2 linked regions of the Homo sapiens genome follow. The protein of the gene in region 2 interacts with the protein of the main gene of each other region in a biochemical or structural test. Each region holds a gene or a part of one and is shown on either strand. Other genes may lie near its edges.

Evidence for each region.
Region 1: the proteins of SLC9A5 (region 2) and CHP1 form a complex in vitro, tested with the Homo sapiens proteins (one study listed by BioGRID).

Annotation. Positions count from the first base shown.
Region 1 is NC_000015.10:41,234,268-41,241,267, reverse strand, and holds part of CHP1 (calcineurin B homologous protein 1), read right to left. Parts: intron 1-7,000. UniProt on the Homo sapiens protein: Calcium-binding protein involved in different processes such as regulation of vesicular trafficking, plasma membrane Na(+)/H(+) exchanger and gene transcription. Involved in the constitutive exocytic membrane traffic.
Region 2 is NC_000016.10:67,244,401-67,252,014, reverse strand, and holds the start of SLC9A5 (sodium/hydrogen exchanger 5 isoform 1 precursor), read right to left. Parts: upstream 3,037-7,614; 5' UTR 3,001-3,036; coding exon 2,814-3,000; intron 1-2,813. Other genes in the region: FHOD1 (FH1/FH2 domain-containing protein 1), read left to right, coding at 4,605-4,805. UniProt on the Homo sapiens protein: Plasma membrane Na(+)/H(+) antiporter. Mediates the electroneutral exchange of intracellular H(+) ions for extracellular Na(+) in 1:1 stoichiometry, thus regulating intracellular pH homeostasis, in particular in neural tissues.

The DNA of each region.
Region 1 (7,000 bases), on a different chromosome or scaffold from region 2:
CTTTAAGAACTTGACCAGTCTATCCCAGTTCTGGCCTCAGGCCTCAAAGGCTATTCTTGTACTAAAGTTCCCTTTAGTTTAACAAAAATAAGTCAGTTAAAGAATTACTAAATTTCAGGCTGGGCGCAGTGGCTCACGCCTGTAATCTCAGCACTTTGGGAGGCCAAGGCGGGCGGATGCTGAGGAAAAGAGATCGAGACCATCCTGGCCAACATGGCGAAACCTCGTCTCTACTAAAAATACAAAAATCTGCTGGGTGTGGTGGCGTCTGCCTCTAGTCCCAGCTACTTGGGAAGCTGAGGCAGGAGAATCACTTGAACCAGGGAGGCGAAGGTTGCAGTGAGCGGAGATCACGTCACTGCACTCCAGACTGGTGACAGAACAAGACTCTGTTTCAAAAAAAAAAAGAATTACTAAGTTTCCCAAAAGATTTTTTGAAAAAAACAAAATTTGTTCACAATCCCAACACTGCCATTTTCATTTCTTCATAGATCTTTTTTTTTTTTTTTTTTTTGAGATAGAGTTTCGCTCTTCTTGCCCAGGCTGGAGCGCAATGGCACAATCTTGGCTCACCACAACCTCCGCCTTCTGGGTTCCCGTGATTCTCCAGCCTCAGCCTCCCAAGTAGCTGGAATTATAGGCATGCGCCACCACACCCAGCTAATTTTGTATTTTTAGTAGAGACAGGGTTTCTCCATGTTGGTCAGGCTGGTCTTAAACTCCCAACCTCGGGTGATCCACTCACCTCGGCCTCCCAAAGTGCTGGGATTACAGGCATGAGCCACCGCGCCCAGCTCTTCATATATCATCTAATATCAGTTACTCGTGTACTTTACAAAGTTGTAATAGCTTGCTTTTCATTTAGTAATTCATACTTTTTCTATATTGCTTTGGAGTCCTTCTTTATCCAATTTATATAATTTTAAAATTGGTAGAAATGTTATCTAATCCGACCCCTTCAATGAACAAATGAGAGCCAGGCATGATGGCTGGCGCCTATAATCCCAGCACTTCCAGAGGCAGAAGCAGGACAATGATTTGAGGCCAGGAGTTCAAGACCAGGCTGGGGAACAAAATAAAAATAAAAATAAAAAATAAAATTATTTTAAACCAAAAAAATCCACAAATGAGCCATTAAACATCTTTCTAATCTATATCATCTAAAATAACTGGGCACTGAGGCTGGGCGTGGTGGCTCACACCTGTAATCCCAGCTGTAATCCCAGCACTTTGGGAGGCCGAGGCGGGCGGATCACGAGGTCAGGAGATTGAGACCATCCTGGCTAACACGGTGAAACCCTGTCTCTACTACAAATACAAAAAATTAGACGGGCGTGGTGGCAGGCACCTGTAGTCCCAGCTACTCGGGAGGCTGAGGCAGGAGAATGGTTTGAACCTGGGAGGCGGAGCTTGCAGTGAGCTGAGATTGCGCCACTGCACTCCAGCCTGGGTGACAGAGAGGAGACTCTGTCTCGAAAAAATAAATAAATAAAAAAGAAATAAAATAACTGGGCACTGAAACCTCCTATAGTATGTTAAGACCAGTTTATGGCTGCTTAAATTCAAAATGTGGCAAGGCCTGGTGGCTCAAGCCTGCAATACCAGCACTTTGGGGGGCTGAGGGCGGGCAGATCACCTGTGGCCAAGAGTTCAAGACCAGCCTGGCCAACATGGTAAAACCCTGTCTCTACTAAAAATACAAAAATTAGCCAGGTGTGGTGGTATAATCCCAGCTACTTGGGAGGCTGAGGCAGGAGAATCGCTTGATCCTGGGAGATGGAGGTTGCAGTGAGCTGAAATCTCACCACTGCACTCCAGCCTGGGCGACAGAGTGAGACTCCGCCTCAAAACAAAACAAAACAAAACAAACGATAACAAAAAATAATGTACTAATATGTTAAAAATAAATAATGTAAATAAGTAGCCAAAACATTAAAAAAAAAAAAACTATCTTCCAGGACGAACTGGGTTATATGGGAGTCAGTGGAGAAACATACAACCAAATGTCAACTTTTAATACTAATCAATATGGTCATATCTAAACTTATCTCCAAAATTTTAGAACAAATTTTAGAACCATAACGATATGGTTACAAGTAATTTTGTTAACAAAAAGAAGGAGAGAAGGCTTTAATTTAGGTACTAAATTCACTGTGACAAAGAATATAAAGCAATCTCAGAACAATCCCAATCTACCTATAAAGGAGCTACACCATCCATGTGTAGAAAGGTACTGGAACTGGTGTGAATGAAGGCAGATCATGTTTCCAGTGAAGTATTTTCCCCAGAAGGCTCTAAGCTAGTCAGATAGGTGCCCAAAACCTGCACAATTCTTGGTAACCCAAAGGAAATAACAGGAGTTGACAGTTACTCTCAGAGAAGGCCGTGCATATAAACGTGTCTTTTTTCTTTTTTTGAGATGGAGGCTTGCTTTGTCACCCAGGATGGAGTGCAGTGGCGCGATCTTGGCTCACTGCAAACTCTGCCTCCCAGGTTCAGGCCATTCTCCTGCCTCAGCCTCCTGAGTAGCTGCGACTACAGGTACCTGCCACCACCATGCCTGGCTAATTTTTTTTTTTTTTTGTATTTTTAGTAGAGACCAGGTTTCACCGTGTTAGCCAGGATGATCTCGATCTCCCGACCTCGTGATCCACCCGCCTCAGCCGCCCTAAAGTGCTGGGATTACAGGCATGAGCCACCGTGCCCTGCTATAAACATGTCTTGAATGAAGCTGTATTTTTTCTCCACTGGTATGGGTATATAATCATTTTAAATTGTTAAAAGATTATTTAAAAGACCCTGTTTGGCTGAGGGCAGTGGCTCATGCCTGTAATCCTAGCACTTTGGGAGGCTAAAGTGGGAGGATCCCTTGACGAAAGGCCAGTTCAAAACTAGCCTGGGCAACAAAGCAAGACTTCATCTCTATAATCAATCAATCAATCATTAGCTGGGCATCGTGGTGCATTCCTGTACGCTGAGCTATTTAGGAGGCAGAGGCAGAAGGACTGTTTCAGCCCAGGAGTTCAAGGTTGTAGTGAGCTATGATCACACCCCTCCACTCCAACCTGGGTGACAGAGTGAGACCCTGTCTCAAAAAAAAAACACACGCCAAAAAAACAAAAAAAGACCCTGTTAACGTTGCTGAAATCTTTCTATCATCACTGCATTGTGCAAAGAGGAGGAAGGCATTTCACAGAAGTGCGAAGCAGAAGTGGCAGAGGAAAGAATAAAAACAAAAAGGGAGTAAGAAAAAGTTATTTTGGAGGGCCAGGCATGGTGGCTCATGCCTGTAATCCTAGCACTTTTGGGAGGTGGGTGGATTACGAGGTCAAGAGATCAAGATCATCCTGGCCAACATGGGGAAACCCCATCTCTACTAAAAATACAAAAATTAGCCGGGCATGGTGGCACGTGCCTATAGTCCCAGCTACTCAGGAGGCTGAGGCGGGAGAATCCCTTGAACCCGGGAGGCGGGATTGCACCACTGCACTCCAGCCTGGTGACAGAACGAGACTCCATCTCAAAAAAAAAGAAAAGAAAAAGTTATTTTGTCCTTGCCTTTATTCCAAATCTTAATGCAGAAGAACAGACTGATAACCTATGTAAAGATTACAAGTACAGCTAAAGGTAGCTCTAGATAAAGGAAAGTTGAAGCCTGCGCTTCCCGGAATAGACTACACCTTAACATTCCCCCTGACATGAAGACTTCAAGCCCTGGACTAGTCTCTTAGGGATTAAGAGAGATTTTAAAACATTATATAAAACAAACAAAATCTATCTTCTTATAATTGGAGAAATTTGAATAGGAAGTGAATGATAGATAATATTAAGGTGGCTCACGTCTATAATCCTAGCCCTTTGGGAGGCTGAGGCAGGCAGATCATCTGAGGTTAGGAGTTCGAGACCAGCCTGGCCAACATGGTAAAACCTCGTATCTACTAAAAATAAAAACAATTAGCCAGGCGTGGTGGCACATGCCTGTAATCCCAGCTACTTGGGAGGCTGAGGCAGGAGAATCATTTGAAGCCAGGAGGCGGAGGTTGCAGTGAGCTGAGATCGCGCCACTGCACTCCAGCCTGGGCGACAAAAGTGAAACTCCATCTCAATTAAAAAAAAAAAAAGAAAAAGAAAAAAAGGGGCCAGGTGCGGTGGCTCACGCCTGTAATCCCAGCACTTTGGGAGGCTGAAGTGGGTGGATCACCTGAGGTCAGGAGTTCGAGACCAGCCTGGCCAACGTGGCGAAACCCCATCTCTACTAAAAATACAAAAAATTAGCCAGGCCTGGTGGCAGGCACCTGTAATCCCAGCTACTTGGGAAGCTGAGGCAAGAGAATGGCTTGAACCCAGGAGGCAGAGGTTGCAGTGAGCTGAGATCGAGTCACTGCACTCCAGCCTGGGCAACAAGAGCAAGACTCTGTCTCAAAAAAAAAAAAAAGATAGTATTAAGAAGTATTATCAACTTTCTTAGGTGTGATAATAGTATTGTTGTTACGTAAAAACCATCCCAATACTTAAGGGATACATGCAGAAGTATGAAGGGGTAAAGAGTTCCAATACCTGCAACTTTCAAATGGTTTATCCAGAAATTTACAAAAATAAAGCTTATATCTTCGCAGCTGCTGCTGGGGTCAATTATCTTCTGAATGAATAAACCTCCAACTACTCTCTGGTCTGGACCACCATCCCCTCCTTGCCCCCGCAAAAAAGTTCCTGGCCAGTGGCTCACCTCTGTAATCGCAGCACTTTGGGGGACTGGGATGAGCGGACCACCTGAACTCAGGAGTTCAAGACCAGCCTGGGCAACATGGTGAAACCCTATCTCTACAAAAAATTAAAAAATTAGCCAGGCGTGGTGGCATGTGCCTGTAGTCCCAGCTACTCAGGAGGCTGAGCTGGGAGGATTGCTTGAGCCCAGAAGCTTGAGGCTGCAGTGAGCCGTGATCATGCCATTGCACTCCAGCCTGGATGACAGAGCAAGACCCTGTCTGAAAAAATAAATAAATAAAAATTAAAAATCAGGTAGTTGCCAGGCACAGTGGCTCACATCTATAATCCCAGTACTTTGAAAGTCTGGGGTGGAAGGATCATTTGAGGCCAGGAGTTTGAGGCTGCAATGAGCTATGATTGCACCACTGCACTCCAGCCTGGGCAACAGAGTGAGACCCTGTCTCAAAAAAAAAAAAAAAAAGTTCTTAGGGTCTCTTTCCCACAATGCCCTCTCTAATTGACAAATAGTTGCTTCTTACTCCTTTATGGCAACAAATGAGAATAAAACTTTGCACTAGAACTCAAAAAGTACAGAGCTTTACAAATCACTTAACCCAAAACCAGTTAAAGGTGTTAGTTATCCATGCATTTCCATTTCAATAGGAGGCAGAAGACAGCCTGGTTTTCTGAAGTGACAGAACCTTCAGGCTGGTGAGGGCTGTGAAGGGTCCTACATTTGGAGGCACGAGAAACCTGAAGTTGAATTTCTACTTACATTCTAGCCATGATATTGTTCTCAAGCAATTGCCTTTGCCAGGCTTGTACTCTGTTAGAACTCTATCATTACTACACTCTTTCAAACAAACAAAACCTTACCAACCTGTGCAACTTACTTCCTAAACCTGTTCAACACCCTTCCCGTACCACATGACATATACCAAAAGGTAGAGACTAAAAATAATCTGCATTCATTACTACTTGAATGGCATGAATTGTTTATCAAGGTGTTTTTGTGGTTGTTGTTTGTTTTTGTTTTTTTTTGAGACAGGGTCTGTTTCTCCCAGGCCAGAGTGCAGTGGCACGAACATGGCTCACTGCAGCCTTGACCTCCCGCCTAAGCAATCCTCCCACCTCAGCCTCCTGAGTAGCTGGGACTGCAGGCACGCTTCACCATGTCCAGCTAATTTTTTTTAAATTTATTTTTTTGTAGAGATGGGGTTTCCCTATGTTGCCCAGGCTGGTCTTGAACTCCTGGGCTCAAGCGATCTGCCACCTTGGCCTCCCAAAGTGCTGGAACTACAGGTGTGAGCCACTGCGCCTGGCCTCATAAAGTTTTAAGTAATTCACAGCCAGCTTATTGCTACAATTAAGTGAATTAAGGGTGATGATTACAGAAACTCCTAAGACATTTGTGGCTTTATCCCCGATTACACCTTTTTTTCAAATAAGCTTTATGAAAATGCAGAAGTCTGAAAGAAGGTAGTAGAACAAAGATAATTTAGCAAATATGCCAATAGAAAGCATTTCTTAGACAATTCCTGTTAAAACATCATAACAGTTTCATAAACTGTTAAAAACTCCTTTAAAAATTTTATTTCCTTATAATTGGCAAAACATCTGTACTTAATTCCTAATCAACTGTCCACTACAAAAAGAAGTATAAAATGCTGTCACCTCCCCAATGATATAGCCCTACACATAGTTTTTATAACTAGTACATGCAAATGGTATTTTCCCAATAAGACGATTGTTAACTATGGTTCAAAATAATAACACTCACATGAAGTTTATTATACCAGACACTATTCTAAGTAGTTTGCATAATTCATCTCATGTAATTGTCGTAAGAATCCTATAAAGTAGGCACTATTATTATTCTAATTTTACAGATGATGAAACTGAGGATCACAGGTAATTCTTATCCAGAATTACTTTTCCAAACACTTACTGTTATTCATTAAATATCAAATACCAGCTAATCTAGTCATGTAGAAATTCTAATCTTTTTAAATTTGCAAAAAATATGGTTAAATATAATCATCAAATTCCAATGCACAGCTTTTGCACTGAATATAAATTTAGTATTCCTCAATTATGTTACATTTTGTACTGGCAAAGGAAGTAGTAAAATGTCTTATAATTGTTCTTAAAGTGCTTCTGATAGATAGTTTTCCAAATTCTTCATAGAAGAAAAGGCAGATGAAAATGGGACAAATTCCACCTCTCTACCCACTCCAGATATCCGTTTTTATTCTTCAAAATCTTTTGCATCATACCAAATTACTCCTTGAAA
Region 2 (7,614 bases):
CCTTCTAGAAATGTCCCTTCCTTTATACTTTCATCCTCAGGGGACCTCACCTTTCTCTGACAACCCTTATCCATAGCCATTATTTGAACCTCAGCTAATGCTACCCAGTATCTTTTTATATGTAAGAAAGCTGTAAAAATCAGGGTCTTTGGAGTCAAGTTGCTTGGATTCAAAGCTTAGTTCTGTGATCTTAGGGCAAATAACTTCATGTCTCTGACTCAGTTTTCTCATCAGTGAAATGGGAGTAAAAACGATAATGATCTCATAAGATTATTGTGACCATTAAAAAAGACAATCTACAGGCGGGGCGCGGTGGCTCATGCCTGTAATCCCAGCACTTTGGGAGGCCAAAGTGGGCAGATCACCTGAGGTCAGGAGTTCTGGATCAGCCTGGCCAGCACGGCGAAACCCTGTCTCTACTAAAAATACAAAAATTAGCTGGGCATGGTGGCGGGTGCCGGTAGTCCCAGCTACTTGGGAGACTGAGGCAGGAGAATCACTTGAACCTGGGAGGCAGAGGTTGCAGTGAGCCGAGATCATGCCACTGTACTCCAGCCTGGGTGACAGAGTGAGACTCTGTCTCAAAAAAAAAAAAAAAAAAAAAAAAAAAAGACAATCTACTCAAAAGCACTTAGCACACTACTTTACAGTAAGCACTCAATAAATGTTACCTATTATAATGTCCTCACTCCTTAACTAGACCAGAATGTATATTATACCTCCTAGGAGCTGTGTAGACTTCCTAGCCCAATGTGCTTTTCATTATATGGGCTCACTCAGGACTGCGTAGTTTTTAAAACTTTGGCTTTAGCAATCAGAAGATCTCCAGGTCTTCTTCCAGCCTTAGCACATTCTATGTGATCTCAGGCAAATTATTTAACTTACTTGAACTTCAATTTCTTCTTTTGTAATATAGGAAAAATACCCAGCATCAAGGGTGAGGATAAAATGATATAAAGTATGCAAATGTGCCTAGCATAATGTCAGACACATAGTATGTTAGACACACACCAAATGTTAATTAAATAGAACAGTTCTGTCTGTAGGAGGGGAGAAGAAAAGCGTTTCTAGCACTATAGCCACTCCTACTTTTGTCCTCTAAAATAAACTCTTTGGCTCTCCTTTAAGTCCTCAGACCACAAGCGAACACATCTCTCTCTACATAATCCCTGGGGTGTTGGGGAAGGAGACCTCTAAATTAGCCTCTGTGAGACCCTATGCCAAGACAGTGCCCTTTGGAAGCTGTACCCAAAGGGCCTAGAACAGTGCCTGGCACATAGTGAGCTCTATGTAAATATTTGTTTAATAAAAGGGAAAAAGTCTCCTAGCAATGAAGCTGGGGGAAGGTGTTCCTGAATGCTCTGCCTTTTCTCTTGTTCGAGGATTTTCTTTGACTTGTGAAAAGGAGGCTCTCTTCTCTTACTTCCATAGGAAATGTCATCCAAACTAGAAAAAGAACCATGATTTATGGGGAAAACTACAGTTTTTGCTATAAACCCTAAGACAGGAACTCTTCTGCAACTCACAGACTTAGCAAACCCAATCGTTGGCTCCAAACCTGAGGCTCTTTCTACTCTTACTCTCATTGCTGCTGGACCTCTAAGGTAAACATGGTCATAGATCTCTCCATACTTGTCCCTACTTTGGTCTCCCACTTCTCTCCTTCGGGGACCCTATTTCATCTTCATCTCTTCATGCATTAACCCCAGCCCCGAGATCCAAGCCCCATCACAGAACCACGCTCCCGGAAGGCATATTGAGTTCCACTTTCCATTATTAATCTCAGGCTGCCACAGCAGAGTGGAGAGTTCTGTTCCTGCCCAGCCCCCTCACCCCCTAGCAGTGTCCATGTGGGAGAAGAGGGGCAAATTCTAGGCTCTGGGTGATTCCTCCATGAAGGCTGTATTGGTGAGACTGGAGTACAGGCTGTGCCAGCATCCATGGGGAGAGAGTAGCAACGCTCAGCTATAATTAGTCACCCCCACAGCAGAGCCAGCACAACAGGGAGAAGGAGGAGGGTCTCTGGTGGGAGGAGGGACCACTGGCTGCTCAGAAGGGAGGAGGAAGGAGCAGATGCAAGGAAAAGCAGCTCTATTCAGGGAAAAAGAAGTCTGAAGCACAGCCTTCAATGCTGTCAGGACTGAAGAGGTCGGATGTATGAAAGCATCTAGGGTAGACAGCACACAGGAAGGCCCCGATACACGGAAGTTTCTTATACCCTGAAGTGAGAAGAATGTGGACCTGAACGTGGGTTGGGGGGGTACCCATACACAGGCACAAGAAGGCAGCAGCTTTAAGTGGGGAGCAGGGGAGAGCTGGAGGAAAAGTGGCAGTGTAGTTTCCCAAGGGAATGGACACTCGGACATGGTCTCCAGGGAAGGCTGCTTTTTCAGAACCAGGATGCCTGTGTTCTTGGGAGAACACCCTCCCCTCAATGTCCCCACACATCCTCACCAGCGACAGAGGTTTCTGGGAGGCTAGGGATTGGTGGGGGAGAGACCAGACTGAAGAGGGCCTACTGCAAGGGGAAGAGGGGAGCGGAGAGGGCAAAGGAGCCTACAGATGGAGTTGGGGAGAGCGGGGGACAGCCCTTCAGAAAGGCAAATCCTCAGAGCTCCCAGGGGAGAAGACAGGGACCTGGGACCCACAAGAAGCGATGCAGGAACTGGGCGAGAGCCCGGATTTGTGGAATCCAAACCTAAGTCCCAGCACCGTGCAAGAAGCCAGCCCCAATCTGAGGACCGAGGAGGTGGGGGTGTTGGGGGCGGGTCCGCCGCTGGCGGTCGGCCTGGCGCACGCACACACGCACTCACCGATTTTGGCCAGACTGGCCACCAGGATCCACAGGGCCACCAGGTAGGGCGCCTCCACCTCGTGCCACTGCCAGCGGAAGAGCTCTAAGCCTGGGGGAGGCTCGCCCGGGGACTCTGGCTTCTGGGTGGGCTCTTCGGCCGCCCCCGCCAGGGGCAGCGCGAGCAGGGACAGGGCGGCGCGCAGCATCCTGCCGCCTGCCCAGCCGCCCTCCCGGCACCGCACGGCCGCCGGCCCCGCGTCGCCGCCGCCACCTACCGGGCGCCCCCGCGTCACAGGCACGTGGGGCCCGCTCCCCCCAATCCCGGCTCCGATACCCCCAAGCCAGGTCCAGGCTCCGAGACCCTGCCTCGGACTCTCGTAGTCGGGGACTCTCTCCTCTTTCCTCCCTAAATCAGTCCCAGCTCCGGAAATTCCCCAGTGCAGCTCTCCCCCAAGTTCCACAACCTACTCCTTCGAGTCCGCGCCCCCAAACCTCCCCAAAACCGCCCCCACCAGATCCAGAGCGGTGCGCGGCCACGGCCCCCCTGGGGCAGCCCGCAGCGGGAAGGGCGGGGGTCTGCGGGGGGCGCGGTCAGGACGGGAGGGGCACGGCTCCTCCTCGGCCAGCGCTGCTGTGCGGCGAGCAGCACCCCCCTGGGACCAAGGCGCGGCCGGGTGCAAAACGCAGGGGACCGTGCTTGGCCGCCCTCCGCCCACGTTGCCAAGCCCAGGACCCCCTGCCGGCCCCCACCCGGACCTGAGCTGCGCACGCGCACTGGACGCTCCCCAAAGCAGTGACGGACAACGCTGCCCCCAACGTCCCAGAAACCCTAAGGCCCAGACTGGCCCAGCTCGTGCCAGGCGAAGAGGGAGGCTGTTCTTCATCTCCCAAACCAAGGGGCACCTGGCCCTCCCTTTCAGTCACACTACAGAGAACTGTCTCATCTCTTTGATGAAGCTGACAGGAACCTATGGAAAACCCAGCCTACTGATTCCCTTCAAACTAGGCGAGATGCACCCAACTTTTTCCAAATCTGAGGGGCATTCGGCTCATAGCGCCCCAAACAGAGGAGGACCGTCTCCACTTTTCATTCAGGCTGAGGGGCACCCATCCCACTTTTTCTCCAAAACTGAGGGGAACGTGTTCTATCTGCCCCCTCAAACTGACTCCTCCCAATCTTTTCCCAGAAAACTGAAGGGCATCCTTCCCTCTTCCTCCCACAACTAAAGGGAACTGATCCCACCTCTTCCTTCAAACTGGGTGGAATTTATTCTCACTTCTTGCTCCAAATTGAAGGGACCCCCTCTCACTGCTTTCCCTAAATGAGGAAACCACAGGGACTCACCCCTCAAATGGAAGGAATGAGGGCTATCTTGTCCCTCAACTGAGAGAGACCTGGCCGGCCACTATCTAAAGAAACTTCTGCCCCATCTGCCCTAACACCCCTCAAAGAGAACGCAGCCTCACTATCCCCAGACCAAAGAAAGCCTCCCCGCCTTCTGCGCGTTCTCGAAGGTGGGGCGCGAGCTCGGTTTTTCCCGCCCTCCTAGCCAGTGAACTAACGGGATTCCCATTGGGCCCTGTGAGTGGCTAGCGGCGGCCCCGCCTCCGGCAGTGGTTACCTCCTGGCGCGCACTCGGGGACTAATCTTGGCTCCACCCCCTTCCTCGGCCCCGCCTCCGTCTGGCCCCGCCCCTCCAGCCGCGTCCGGTCCGGCCGGGCCCGAACCGCGGAGCTACAGTGTGCTTTGAGTAGAAGCTGCACTGGGGCCGGGACTCGGAGGCGCGCTGCGTGAGCCGGCCGCAGAGCCATGGCGGGCGGGGAAGACCGCGGGGACGGAGAGCCGGTATCAGTGGTGACCGTGAGGGTGCAGTACCTGGAAGACACCGACCCCTTCGCATGTGCCAACTTTCCGGAGCCGCGCCGGGCCCCCACCTGCAGCCTGGACGGGGCGCTGCCCTTGGGCGCGCAGATACCCGCGGTGCACCGCCTGCTGGGAGCGCCGCTCAAGGTGAGGGAGGCCGGAGAAAGGTTGGGGCGATCGGGGGTTCAGGGTGGGCGCCATGAAAACTGGTGGGAGGTGCTCCGCGGGAAGAGGCTGGAGCGAGTGTTCTTCTCCGGAAAAGTCTTGGGCTGGGGTCCCAGGGTCCACTCTGCCCCGCCTGCGGGGGAGTCCCCTCTCAAGTTGAGGGGAAACTGAAGAGGGGTGCCAGGAACTTGGCTCCGCCATTCTGACTGCCCTTCGAATTAGGCGCACCTGGGGAGGTGCTCGAGTTCCACTCGCCGTCGGTCTGCCAGGGTGGCTTCCCTGGTCAGAGTGACGGTAGCCGCTTGGGCTGTAGCGGACCCTGGAGGCGGAGCTGGGGAGGGACCAGCTTCCACCTGCTTCAGGTGAGGTGGGGGCGGGACCACGAGGAGGGGCGGGCCCGAGGCGGACTACTAGAGGTGGCAGAGGTTTCCTGCGGTGTCAGGAAGCTGGATTGGGGCTTGACCCTGTAGGTCAATGGGAGTATGGGAGTGCCGGCCGAGGAGAGACTTCACGGGGTGAGGGGAGTCCCCGCGAAGCGGTCTGGCCCGGGATCCGCAGAGCGCAGGAGGCTGCACGGGTGTAAAAGCCCTTTGAGTCACCGCTCCCGCCCCCACCCCCGGACACTCGCCGCCCATCGGCCCGCGCCTGAAAGTGAGAGGGAGGGCCGGACTAATTTTAAACAGCCGGCCTGCCCTACTTTGCTGCCGCCCCGAAGCGGACTTGTGCACAGTGCGGAAAGAGGCCCTTTTCCAGATGGCCAGCCTACCTCCTCTCCCCTCCCTCTCGCCGCCGTCAGCCCCCCGCAGGCAGCCCTTTCCGGCGCGCTGTTTCCGGGCCAGGACTCTGGGAGGCGCACTACCACCTCCACAAGCTCCCCACCAGCCCGGCCGCCTCCAGTGCTGGAGAAGAGGAGAGAGAGTCGGGGTGGGTGCCCTCCCCTGCTCCCAGCCTCAGCTGGGCGGCGAGTTGCGTAAACTTGCCCCTTGGGCCTGGGGTCTTCCCTGGAATGTGCCCCGGGCCCCCAGCCCGCATTCCTCGCGCTGCGGCCAGCCCCGCCTCTGAGCGCTGGCGGGAGGGGTGGTGAGACTATTGGCCTGGAGAGTGGCACGTGTCCAGGCCAGAACCCCGGCTTCAAGGCCATGGCTGGAAGGATGCAGGACACTGCTCACCGCCAGTTTTGACTCAGCCCCCGCTTCTCTTGCCCTATTCAGAGGGGCAAATTGAGGTGTGCCTGGAAGAAGCGTGTGCAGCTGGAGGCCACCTCCCATTCAGGATGGGGGCTGGGAAGACAGGAGTGCTGAACTAAGACTGGTTCCCGCTTCCAGGCTCCTAAAGTCCGGATCCTGAAATAAGGGTGGGGCACTAGAGAATATATTGTATTCCTCTCATCCTGCAACTCAAGGATTGGACCTAGCCCTGACACCACCCCCCCGATTTTTTTTTTTTTAAGACGGATTCTGGCTCTGTCTCCCAGGCTGGAGTACAGTGGGGCTATCTTGGCTCACTGCAACCTCCACCTCCCGGGTTCTAGCAATTCTCGTGCCTCAGCCTTCCAAATAGCTGGGATTACAGGTGTGCGCCACCATACTCAGGTAATTTTTGTATTTTTAGTAGGGACAGGGTTTCTCCGTGTTGGCCAGCCTGGTCTCAAACTCCTGACCTCAGGTGATCTGCCTGCCTAAGCCTCCCAAAGTGCTGGGATTAAGGCTTGAGCCACCATGCCCAGCCCCTTGACACACCTCTTCCCAGCTGGGGGCAAGCCTGGGAAGTCAGCTGCAAGAAAGAGGCTCAGAACCACTCCTTCTATCTCCCTCTCATGGGACCCGTGTCCCCACCCAACCCTACCAGGTGCTCTGCCCTGTGTTCCCTGCTCCTTAGCTGAGGACACTACTGAGCTCCGGTGAAGAATATAAGTTCCTCATCCCCAATGCAGTCCTTCCTGGTCTCCCCGATTTCATGTTCTCCCACCTGGAGTACCTGAGGACTGCCTTCCCTCCCCCACAGGGATATGGAGGTGGCACACTAGGTTACCACAATGCCAGAAGCCAGGATTCCCTGGGGCTAGCAACTCTGCCAGGAATGGTCAGATGCACTGTGATGTGCTCAACCCAAATATAAACTATGACCACAGCCCCAGAATAGAAGGCTGGAGGAAGAGGGGCTGAGAATAGGGCAGAGACAGGGACATCAGAGAGCTGAGCAAGGGGGAGCAGGGCCCCTCCTTGCAGGAAATGTCAACAGCTGGTTCCTCCCGTAGTCCTATAAGTGGGTGCCCCAGAGTCACAGACATGACTCAGGCCTGTCTTGCTGGCCCTCTAGAGGGAAGAGGTGGCCCAGAAACCAGGGCATCCCTGTCCCAAGCTGTAGGGCAGAAATAAGAGGAAGGGGTTCTTTACTCATTGCTTCGTCCTATGTACAGTTGTCCAGCAGAGGACAGGACACAGCCAAGTGGCCTCTGTCCTCCTCTGGGTACTGGCCCCGGGTACTGGCCCTGATCATCCCAGCAGATGACCCCCCTCCCTGGGGATGTACAGAGGCCAGCCTGCTTTCTCCCTGGGACTCCACCCACACACCCCATTGGGCCGAGCCTAGCCCCTAGAGTTCCCCTGGGGGCTTCCTTTTTAAAGAGCTTTCAGATCTCAGAAAGCCTTGCTCATTTCCTCCTAGACTAGGAGGAAGCTCCTGGCCACAGCCTCTGACTCATCTCCTGGCCCTGGTTGGTGGAAGGGAGCTTGACAGTGTCTTGGGCCGGGCCTAGTGTCCCTGGGGGAACTCAGGAGTGCCTTCCTCC